Regions from separate parts of the Homo sapiens genome. Here region 1 is linked to region 2. Evidence: fine-mapped expression QTL. Tissue or cell type: caudate. Region 2 holds a variant in brackets; the other region holds the start of a gene. All regions are shown on one strand. Distances are between the middles of the regions.

Region 1 (5,361 bases), 7.0 kb before region 2:
TGACATCATCCACAACCCTCTCCTGTTTCCCTGGCAACTGGGGTGCTGGCCGAGGCTCCCCAGGGGCCCAGACCGTCTGGATTTCCTTGCACATAACTATACCTCGTCCACATTTTCACAATTAAATTGTCAGTTTGGGTTAAGTGTTGTCTGCTGATGGCTGTCAACCTCTCTCTGGCTCTCCTCACTCTTCACCCAGAGCAGGTAAGTGAGAACGTCCTGCCTGTCCCTCAGTGCCATGGAAAGGAACTAGGATGTTAGTGGGAGGCAGGAGAACTGGGTTCCAGGGTAGCTCTGCTATGCACTTGCTGTGTGGTCTTGGGTAAGTCACTTGCCCTCTCTGGGCCTAGGTCTCCCCATCTTAACAACAGAGCTAATCACCTCTGCCCAGCCTCCCTCTCAAGCCAGTGGCAAGTCTCAAAGGAGCCTGCCCATAACTGTGGCAGGGCTTAGAAAACTGGAAAGCTCAACTTGAGGTCTGGGATGGTTAATAAAATGAGCAAACGGACCTTGAGAGGGACTTCTCTGAATCCCCACCAAACAGACAGGTAAGTCAGTTCCCCTCTGGTCTACCCCGCATCCTTCTGGCTACAGATCTAGCCCAGGTCTTCTCCCTCTCACAGTCTGTTCCTGGATTGAAAAGGACAGAAAAAGTGCTCTTCCCAACAGGGCTTGGCACTGAAGATGCAGAGCAGAGGTGCTAGACCAGAGGACTAAGGGCCCTGCTTCCCACAACAGATGTGTCCATGCAGGTGGCTCAGCTGCTGCATTAGTGGCCAGGCTGTCCCTCCCCTCCACTAGCCCAAGTCATTCCTGCTGCTACCCCACTTTCCCCTCATAGGCTTCCAGGAGCTCCATCTCCCCTCACCTCCCCATCCAACCCCAGACCTGCCCCAGACTTGAATCCCAAACCTGACCTTACCCCTTCCCTCTTCAGACCTCCTCCATGTCTCTCTTGGCAAAGCCCAAGCTCCCTAGCCCAGCACTGAAGGCCCTCCGTGGCATGGGCCTGGCTTCCTCTCCCGTTATTCTCCCTCCTGTTGCTCTTCATGCCAGCAGCACCGAACCACCCACTTACCCTTCTCTGAAAGCAAACTTCTTCTTGTCTTTGCTTACACTGTTCCCCTGCTGGGAACGCCCTCCCCCTTCCCCGGCCACCTGACAATTCCTCTCCCACCTGCACATTATTTATATAGACATGAATGCTAAGTACAGATGAGCTCTCCATCTGGAACTGTTTACGTACCTGGCAGAAAAGGAACTAACCTTTATCAAGGACCGATTACGTGCTGAGCATTTTACATACATCATCTCTCCTTTAAGCCCCACAGCAACCCAGGCAATAAATTTCACTCCTCCTATTTTTCAGGTGAGAAAACTGAGGCTCAGAGACATGAAGTGTCTCTTCCAAGGCCAAACAGAAGTTGCTTTCGAGTTGCAACCCCAAACTGTGTGATCCAGAGCCCATGCTTGTTTTAGGGCCAGGTGGAAGCACTTCCCTTAGGGTTATATCTGTGTCCGGGGACACCATGTACATAAAAATACTTGTTATTAAGTGAGGTTGTGCTGCTTTGTAATGCTAGGGACCATCGTGATGTGCCTAAGGCTATCCTATATAAGAGGGGACCCCAGGAAGACAGCCAGGACCCCTGGGGGAATCAGAGGTCTCTGCTCTAGACGGAGGAGGATCTTCTCCAAGACAGAGCCATTCATAATGGAAGACACCATCCTGGAGGGAGTGAGCTCCAATCCCTGGCAACTTTGGAGCAATTACTGTTTGTCCAGCCCTGGTGCAGTACTGGGGACATAGCAGCACATGACAGAGCTATCACTGGCCACATGCTGCCCCAGATCAGTGGAGACATTACAGGGCCTCTGGTGGCCAGCACCTTGGGGTTATGAGAGGGGGTGGCCCAACGGTAAGATTCTAAGATTCTGAAATGACATTAGACAAATAATTGTGTATATATTTAGCTTTTTCACTCTTTAAGCCTGGCTGCTTCTTGTCTCTATTGCTACATAACAAACCATGTCAAGATTTAGTAGTTTAAAGCCATAATTGACTCTCGTGCTTCTGTGGGCTGACCCAGCAGCTCTGCTGACCTTGTTGGGCTCGCTCGCGTGGCTGCATTTGACTGATGGGCCAGCCGATACAGCAAGGCCTCTCTCTGCCCCAGCCTGGGCTTCTGACCTTGCAGCTGGGCTGGGCCCCAACAGGGTGAAGGCAGAAGCTGCAAGGCCCCGAGTCCTGGGCAGCAGAACACAGGCTACATCTACTAGTCAAGCAAGCCATGAGGTCAGCCCAGATGGAGGGGTGGGGACAGAGCCTTCGCTTTTGCATGGAGTCACATTCCAAAGAGTCTTTATGTTCTGGGATGGGAGGAATTGGTGCTACTAAAAAGCTGCCTCACTGGCCTGCTCAGAAAGGCTTCAGAACCAGTGACAAATAACTGCATGGCTTATGCCTGGATGTCAGGAGACCTGATATCTGTCTCCTGCACCACTAACCGAGTGATGTGCGACCCCTCTCTCGGCGTCAGTTTCTCTATGTGTACAGTCGGGGCACTGAGCATGGTAGGTCTCTGGCCCTGTGTGTGCGTGTGATGGGGTGAAACTCAGACAATGCCGCCTCTCTTCTCCCAGGTGCAGAGACGCTGATTTGTACACATATCAGAGAAGCAGAGGCCCAACCATAAAAGAAACTGCCATCCTGACACAAATGCCCCTGTGGCCCACTGCTTCCTATGCCTCCTCTTCTGGTGACAGGCACTGCACCCAGCCATGCCCAGAGCCAGTTTCCCGTGGCAATAACAGATGTCCATCAGAGGGAGAGTGCGTGACTCAAACAAGGCCAATCAGCCGCCTTCCCTGGGACTGATTCAGAGGCCCAAGGAGACAGAGGTCTCATTTGACTGGAATTTCTAACTGGGGCTGTTGGTGGCTGCATCCCAATGGGGAGAAATGAGGCCCGGGTGAGTTCAAAGAGAGGAGGAAGAAGGAGAAGTGAGTTTGAGACAGCACAGCATCTCCAGGGGACCAGCACCAGCCCTGAGCCCTCCTGAGTGCAGTAGGGCCACCAGCCACCCCAGTTTCTCCTGCAGGAACCAGTTTCTCTGGTGTTGAAGCTGGTTGGGGTTGGGTTTCTTCTCTCCTGGAGCTGAAAGAGGCCTGAGAAACACACACATTGTCTCCTGAGCAGCCACCACCATGATTAAACAACTGAGAGTTGAAAGCAGGCTTTCAGATGTGACGCCCTCAGTAGACATGACGGGTGGCATTTTGTTATGTGCACCCAGGAAAGACACCTCCCATCTCTCCGTGGTGCCCCCAGGCCTGCTCCCTGAGCCCTGTAAAATAACAATACCTCCCCTGAGGTAACTGAAGGGGAGGAGGAAGACATACCCTACCCTGGGCAGTGGGCAGAGGTTCCAGAAACCCACAGACCCGGGGTTTGCAGCCAGGCCCACTCACTGACAGAGAGATCTTGTATGAATTACCTGACAGACCTGGCCCAGTGTGCTTATCTGCAGAGCAATGCCTGTCTCAGGCATAGGCACAGAAACTGCCTAGCACACAGTAGGTGCTTGTTCAACCAATATGACTTCTTACAACATTATTTCTCAATAACATCGAGAAGGAGTGGTTTCGTGGCTTTCTGTTTTGCAGATGATGAAACTAAGGATCCCAGAGGCTGAGTGACTTCCCCGGAGTCCCTCGGTGGGTAAGTGGAGGAGGTGAGTCTGACAGCCAGGCCCAGGTGCTCTGATGACAGGCCTGCTGCTATTTTGTCCCCTTACCCCACCCTTGCCTGGAAGATCTGGCCTCACAGGGCATGCCAGAAACAGCTGGGCTGGGTTCCTCTGCTCAGACCCCCTGTTCATGTGTCTTCTCAGAAAGGCCTTTCTAAAAGCACCCTGGTGGTGGAAGCAGTACGCTTTAGTCTCATTGTAACCAATGAGAAATGGGAAATGGTGATGACGGCCTCTGCCCTGCCCTGCCCTCCCTCGAGATGTGTCCAGGACCAGGATGAGGGATCTCAAAAAATGGTTCTGGCCGGTGCAGTGCCTCATGCCTGTAATCCCAGCACTTTGAGAGGTCAAGGTGGGTGGATCACCTGAGGTCAGGAGTTTGAGACCAGCCTGGCCAACATGGTGAAACCCCTGTCTCTACTAAAAATACAAAAATTAGCCGGGTGTGGTGGTGGGCACCTGTAGTCCCAGCTACTTGGAAGGCTGAAGCATGAGAATCGCTTGAACCCAAAAGGTGGAGGTTGCAGTGAGCTGAGACTGCACCATTGCACTCCAGCCTGGGCAACAAGAGCGAAACTCTGTCTCAAAACAAAACAAAACAAAACAAAAATGGTTCTGGGAAGCCAGCATCTGCCAGGTGGCCTGGGGTCGGGAGAGGGAGAGTACCTGTGGTCTTCCTTCATTCACATTCATGGCTCGTCCTATGGCACAGGCTGGTTTGGTGGTGAGAAGAGCATGGCCCAGGGAGTGCTGGTTCCAGGCTAGAAAGAGTCATCTATGGAGCAGGTCCAAACCCAACCAGGAGCCTGGGACCCATGAGTCCAGCCCATGCCAGCTGCCCCCAGCCAACCCGCAGACATGGGAGGGAGAGGCGTGTGCTTGTGGATGATGCCACAGAGACTGTACACAGCAAAAGTGGAGCAAAACACTGTCGCTTTTTTTTTTTTTTTTTTTTTGAGATGAGTCTTGCTCTGTCACCCAGACTAGAGTGCAGTGGTACCATCTTGGCTCACTGCAACCTCTGCTACCCAGGTTCAAGCGATTCTCCTGCTTCAGCCTCCCAAGCAGCTGGGATTACAGGTGCCTGCCACCACACCTGGCTAATTTTTGTATTTTTAGTAGAGATGGGGTTTCGCCATGTTGGCCAGGCTGGTCTTGAACTCCTGACCTCAAGTGATCCACCCACCTCGTCCTCTCAAAGTGCTGGGATTACAGGCGTGAGCCACCACACCTAGCTGTCACTCTCTTTTGAGTCCCTTGGTGAAGCGATAGCGGTGAGCTGAGCGGTGCCCCACCACATCCCCCCTTCACACACCACAAAGTCGTGGCCCAGGGTGCGTGATCTTGACCCTTCTCCTTACTGGCTGCTTTTGGCTTTCTCTGGAAAAGCCTTTGTTGTTGTGGGAGGGATAAAGTGCTGAGGTCTGAGTAGGGGTAGTGGGCTTAGGGAAGACAGAGAAGGCATTGGGGGGGACATCTGGGGTTGTGGTCACACAGCATTCTTGGGTCAGGAGCCCCAAGATGTGTGGGTTCTAGAGCTGAAAAGGCCCTTAGAGGTTCAACCCTTCACTTATAGATGGGCGACTGGGGCTCAGACAAAGCAAAAAAACTA
Region 2 (5,361 bases):
TTCACACCTCTGTGCTACTGTGTGTGAGGGCAGATGATATGTCCTGGTATCTCCCGAGTGTGTTTGTAACCATATGCGGGGTGATATGCCCCAGCCTGTGTGTGAGGACTGGCTGTGTGGGAGTACTGGTATGGCTGGGAGGCTGCTATGGGCACTGTGGGCCCAGATGTTTGTGTTGTATGTGGAGGTACCTGTAGCTGGGTGTGGGGCAGCCTAGGAGTGCCACTTCATCTGCAGCTGCAAAGAATGGGGAAAAGAATGTCAGGCATTTTGGGGGACCTGAGACAGGCTCCGTGTCCTCACTAAGTCTCCATTTCCCTTTCTGCTAATGAACCAGTTATCCTTGAGGACGTCCTGGGATTGAGGCCCCTAGAAGGAGGGGGAGACATGGATGAACCCACAGCACCCGATGGGCAGTTAGAAATCGCAGTCATGTTGTGGGGTAAGCAGCTGGTCTGCTCAGGGGAGGCCAAGTGAGGGGGTCCAGAAGCACCACACGCCTGGGCTACTCGACGCAGGAGGTGCCTCTCTAGGCTCCTTTAACTTAGGAAACCCAGTCCTCCTCTGCTCCCCCTCCCCTGTGTCCAGAACACTCCCCAGCAGTCACCCCAACGGCTGGGACGCCGCCCAGCTCCACACCTAAGGTTTACAGCGGGCTTTGTAGCGCGGAGTCCTCGTGTCTCTTTCTCTTGCAGGATCGTTGATTCCTTTTCCACAACTGGAACCAGAGGCCAGAAGAGATGGCCCCCCGAAGGACCAGGACTAGGACACGAAGGCAGGTTTCGGGACCTCAGACGTCTACAGTAACCACGCTGCGCGACCAACACCTAAGGATGCCCCGGCTCCAGACTGAGACCCAAGTCTGACTTCCCCCTGCCAGTTGAGGCTCCTTGCCTGGTTGCTGCGACGATTCGAGATGGGCCTTACCCGGGCCCCACGCGTGTCGCAGGCACGCAGCACGCACGCTTAGTAAACACCAGCTGTAGTGAGCGAGTCCCCCTTTGTAACTCGACAGAGTACTAAGTTCTCTGGAGCGGCGGGCGCCGCCGGTCAGTGGCGTCCGCGGGGACCCCGCCCCCGCCCCCCGCGCGCGGCCGGGGCCACCCGGTGGGGTTGCGACGCGCTGACGTGGGCGGATCAAAGCGGCCGCCCGCCTTATAAAGCAGTTTGGGAGGCTCGCGCCGGAGATCGCGCCAGGCGAGGAGGAGAGCTCGGGCGAGCGGCGAGCACAGGCCACGGGAGCTGAGCGCAGCAGAGAGCAGCCGGAGTCCGCGCCTGACTCCGCGCGGGTCCTGAGCCGGCCGCAGCTTGCCAGGATCCCCGGCGTCCTTCTCGCGCCGCTTCACGAAGAGGGCGCCTTCGCCGCTCGCCCAGCCGGAGTGCGCACGGGCCCGCTGGAAACCGCACTCGCCGCTCCCTGGGCAGGCCGGGGCACCCGGGCACGCAGGGCGCGCCTGGCGAGCGCCCCGGGAGGTGAGCAGTGGTCGCGGGCAGCGGGCAGCCGCTCAGCGGGGACCCGCCAGGGCTGGGGGCGCCCGAGTCCGAGGGGGACGACGCTTCTCGCACCCGCCACGACCCCCTTGGGCACCCACTCCCGGGTAAGCAAACCAAGCGCTCCTCCATACCTTTCCCCCGCAGCACTCCGAAGAGTTCCCCTTTGCGGAGCGAAGCCTCGGGAGCCTGGGGACGCGGGGTTTAGGGGCACGCGGGACGGTGGTGGGTTGTGCAGTTCCTGCGGCCCTCCTCGAACTTTCCCGGCCCGGCCCCCCTCTTCTGCCCCCGCACCCCAGGCGACCCCCTCCTTCCCAGTCGTTCGGCGGATGAGGTCATGCCCGAGCCACCCCCGGGGGTGGGGGACTTGGATCCCGCGACAGAGGGTGTGTGTGGTGGGCGGGGGGAAAGGGTGGCAAAAGGCAAAGAAATGCGGCAGCGCCTAGTAAATTGGGGATGGGGGCAGAAGCCTGGCTTTGAGAACGGGTCCCAGGGGCGGCGGGGGGAGGGGGAGAACCGAGTTTGTTTACTGACCTGAGCTCCAGGCTGGGGGCTAGGGAGGAGGAAAGTCCTGTCCCCGGCCCCGAGGCACATCTGCAACCGCCCGGAACATCTGGCTGAGCTCGCGCACGAGCTCCACGCCTCCCACCCCCGGGGCTGAAGTGCCTCGGTGTCCCTCAAGGCCCTGGGCGTGCAGGGTCCGGCTCCAGGGGGTTAGCAGGAGGGATCTCGAGTGCTCCCACCCACCCTTCCCACTTCCAAAACAACCCGTCTCCCGGGTGACCCGGCGCCGCGTGCGCAGCCAAGCAGACG[T/A]CTCTCGAAAGCCTCACGGCTGGGGTCAAAGCCGGGTGGCAGGCCCGGCCTCGCCCCGCCCCGCAGGTAACCTTGAAGCCGTCGCTCGGCGTCCCTGGTTGGCGGGGTCAGCTCCGTGAGCTGCGTGGCGGGAGGCTTCGGGACCCGCCCGTGCCGACCTTGCGCGCCGCGCGGACAATCGGCCCCGGTGCACGGTGCCCGTGGGGCGTCGGGGTAGGGGGGACCCCGCAAGTCCTCGCCGGGCCGGCGTGGCCTGGTCCCAGCGGCCGGCTTTCCAGAGTCCTCCACAGACCGGGCCTATGACCATCTGTTGGCGGCGCTGGGCTGCGGCGCTGCGCTCGTGGTGTTCTCCCTGTGCACAGCCCCAGGCGGCCGCCTCCCGGGCCCGCTGCAGGCAGGGTAGCTCGGACCAACTTCGAGGAGGTGACCGCTCGCTCTCCAAAGGTGCTACGCCTGGCGCGGCCCACTACGCGCCCGGCCCCAAGCAAGGGGCCGGGCAGGTCAGGGCGGCCCACGGCAAGTGTCCTATAGAACGACCAGGACACAGGGGGCACTCCCTCGACACGTCGTCCCATCCCCAGACGGAGAAGCGGGGGCCCAGGAAGAGGACTTGACCCCAGCCCGCGACGCAGGAGGCAGCCGCGATTCCCCCCTCCTCGAGCCCCGGCTTAGCGCCCCCTGGCGGGCTGGGGGCTTCAGGAGGCGCGTGCACCCTGACCCGCGAGCTCAGGCGGAAGGTGACCCCGTGGCCTGCGCGGCTGTCCCGGGCGCTCGTACAAGGGACAGGAACAGTCCGTCAGGACCCAGAGGCTCGGGCCAGGCGCTGCCTCCCCGCGCGACGAGCTTGGGCGGCGGAGGGAGAGCCTTGGGACAGCCGGGGCTGCACCGAAAGAGCTGGGCGGGGCTGGAGGCCTGGGTCCCCGTCCGCTGTGCGACCTAGGGGGCTCCTCCTCTCCCTGGGAGACCAGGCTGGACACAGATCCCCCGCTGTGAGTCCGCGCGCCTCCGTCCTCTTGCAGCCCCCGCCCCCTCCCCACCCAGGAATGCCGGGTGCCTTCGGGGGGCGGCGCACTTTGGGAGAGGGGAAGACGGTGACTGGAGTTTTGATTCCCCCCTCCATATCCAGCGGATATTTTTCTCGTTCTGAGAAGTGCAAGAAACTTGCAGGACCAGGAAGACAAAGGATTTGGATACAGGCTGGGTGGGAGGACGGGACTGGGTTACACCGAGAACCCCTCTGAGACCCCCAGCCTTGACGGCATGTTTGTCGCAGGCGCCCCTGTGCTGGGCGCTAGCTGCGGGGCTCTGCGGAGGAAAAAAACTGTACGATCCAGGCTTCTCCTCGCCTTCCTGTGGGTTTTGCCGACAGGCTCCAGAAAACAGTGGGGCTTCCCATCTCTGCGTGCTGACTACCCACGCGCAGGAACGCGCCACGCAGGTGGCGTCGCGGTGCAAATAGCAGAGGGGCGCTGAGCCCCGCAGGCTGCAGGGAGACGGGGTCCTCGGGGGACGCACGGCGAAGCCCCATTCCTCGTTCTTATGGAAGGGGACACCGAGGCTGGGGTGGCTGAGGGCTTGCCCAAGCTCACAGAGCCAGATAAGAACGTCCCTTTTCTGCTCCAGCGCCCCCACTACCGTGGGCGCCTCCTTTTCCAACTCCCCAAACCCTTAGAAAGGAATCCCTTTGTCTCTGCTCCTCCCGAGGGGAGAGGGGCTGGGGCTGTGTCTGACTCCGGGCGAACGCCAGGTGTTGGTAAATTTGGGAGAAGCTGGGAAGGGAGTTAATGAGGTGAGAATGAAGTGAAGGAGAAAAAAAGCGGAGATAGCTGCTCCGCGGGCTGCGGGCGGGCGGGGCAGCCTCTCCTCCGCGGCCCGAGGGCGCCGCCTGGAGGCCAGAGGCAACACCGCGCCAGCCCCGCGAGCTTCCCCGCTTCGCTAAGGCGGGGCTGCCCAGTCCCAGCCCGCATGCTTCCACTCCCACCCTCCAAAGTGGAGCGGCTAAAGACGGACTTGGAGACTCGGAATCCTCACTGTACAAAGAGCCCTACCATCCCGTTTCCCATCCTCCCCTTCCCACACCGAGAAAGCAGGGCCCCGAGCAAGCCCCATTTCCTGATTTCGCCGGACACCCGGCTTGCCGCTCCCTAGCTGAACCCCACCTCTGTGCCTCAGTTTCCTCATCTGTGAGATGAGGCAGCGATAGTGCCTATCTCACGGGGTGCTGGGAGGAGCAGATGCGATCGTGTTAGGGAACTTTTTTTGTTTGTCTGTTTGTTTGAGACGGAGTTTCGCTCTTGTCGCCCAGGCTAGAGTGCAGTGGCGCAATCTCCGCTCGCTGCAACCTCCGCCTCCCGGGTTCAAGCGGTTCTCCTGCCTCAGCCTCCCGAGTAGCTGGGATTACAGGCGCCCGCCACCACGCCCGGCTAATTTTTTGTATTCGTAGTAGAGACGGGGTTTTGCCATGTTGGGCAGGCTGGTCTCGAGCTCCTGACCTCAGGTGACCCGCCCGCCTCGACCTCCCAAAGTGCTGGGATTACAGGCGTGAGCCACCCTGCCCGGCCAGGGAACGTTCTTTATAAAAGCGGAATTGTGCCCGAATTGCCCCAGCTTACTGAGGAGGTAAACTGAAACACGTTTGGGAAGGAGAATTGCCGAGGCCCTATTAACTAATGCTCAATATTGCAGGGATAAGCCCCAGCTCCGGGTCCTCGACTCTGCTGCCTCGCCTGGACTCCTGATTCCTCATTCCTCTCCTTTCCGTCCCAGGTTGCGTCTGTCCGGGTTTCCCCCTCTGTCTCCGTGGCTCTCAGCCTTGTCCTCTGAGCGTCCTTCTCCCTCTCGCTGTGTCTGCCCGGTCTCTCCTGGGTCTCCGGTTCTGCCGCCTCCTGTCCCTCCTTCCGGCTGCCCCGGCCAGAGGGGCTCGAAGGCGCGTTGGGGCCCGGGGCCACGCTGGGAGACACGCCTTCGGCCGCGCCTAATTCGAGCCAGGCGCGGGACGCGTCCCCCGGCCGGGCGGAGCGGGAGGGGACGCCCGCCGCGCTCGGCCTCCCCGGGCCC

Alleles and levels. Alleles are on the strand shown, and positions count from the first base shown. SD is a standard deviation of normalised expression in the study named.
In carriers of allele A in region 2, the expression in caudate of the gene that starts at base 2,869 in region 1 tends to be lower than with T alone (small effect, 0.37 SD a copy in GTEx).

What was found.
Region 1: it holds the start of LINC02761, and the variant in region 2 is fine-mapped to the expression of LINC02761 in caudate (GTEx, PIP above 0.99). The same link has a PIP of 0.9 or more in skeletal muscle and visceral fat.

The regions. Positions count from the first base shown.
Region 1 is chr11:76,213,598-76,218,958 of GRCh38, reverse strand. It overlaps LINC02761 (long intergenic non-protein coding RNA 2761), which reads left to right and starts at 2,869. Exons shown (of 3, transcript XR_007062785.1): 1 at 2,869-2,972; 2 at 3,667-3,734.
Region 2 is chr11:76,206,584-76,211,944 of GRCh38, reverse strand. It overlaps LINC02761 (long intergenic non-protein coding RNA 2761), which reads left to right. Exons shown (of 3, transcript XR_007062785.1): 3 at 696-989. LOC112268079 (a long non-coding RNA gene) reads right to left here and starts at 2,118. Exons shown (of 2, transcript XR_002957259.1): 1 at 2,026-2,118; 2 at 413-1,680. It also overlaps a transcript of WNT11 not described here. RefSeq lists silencers at 1,269-1,438, 4,091-4,310, 5,291-5,361 and enhancers at 1,651-2,317, 2,650-2,699, 2,318-2,984, 4,319-4,986. The variant T/A (reference allele first, on the strand shown) is at 2,305.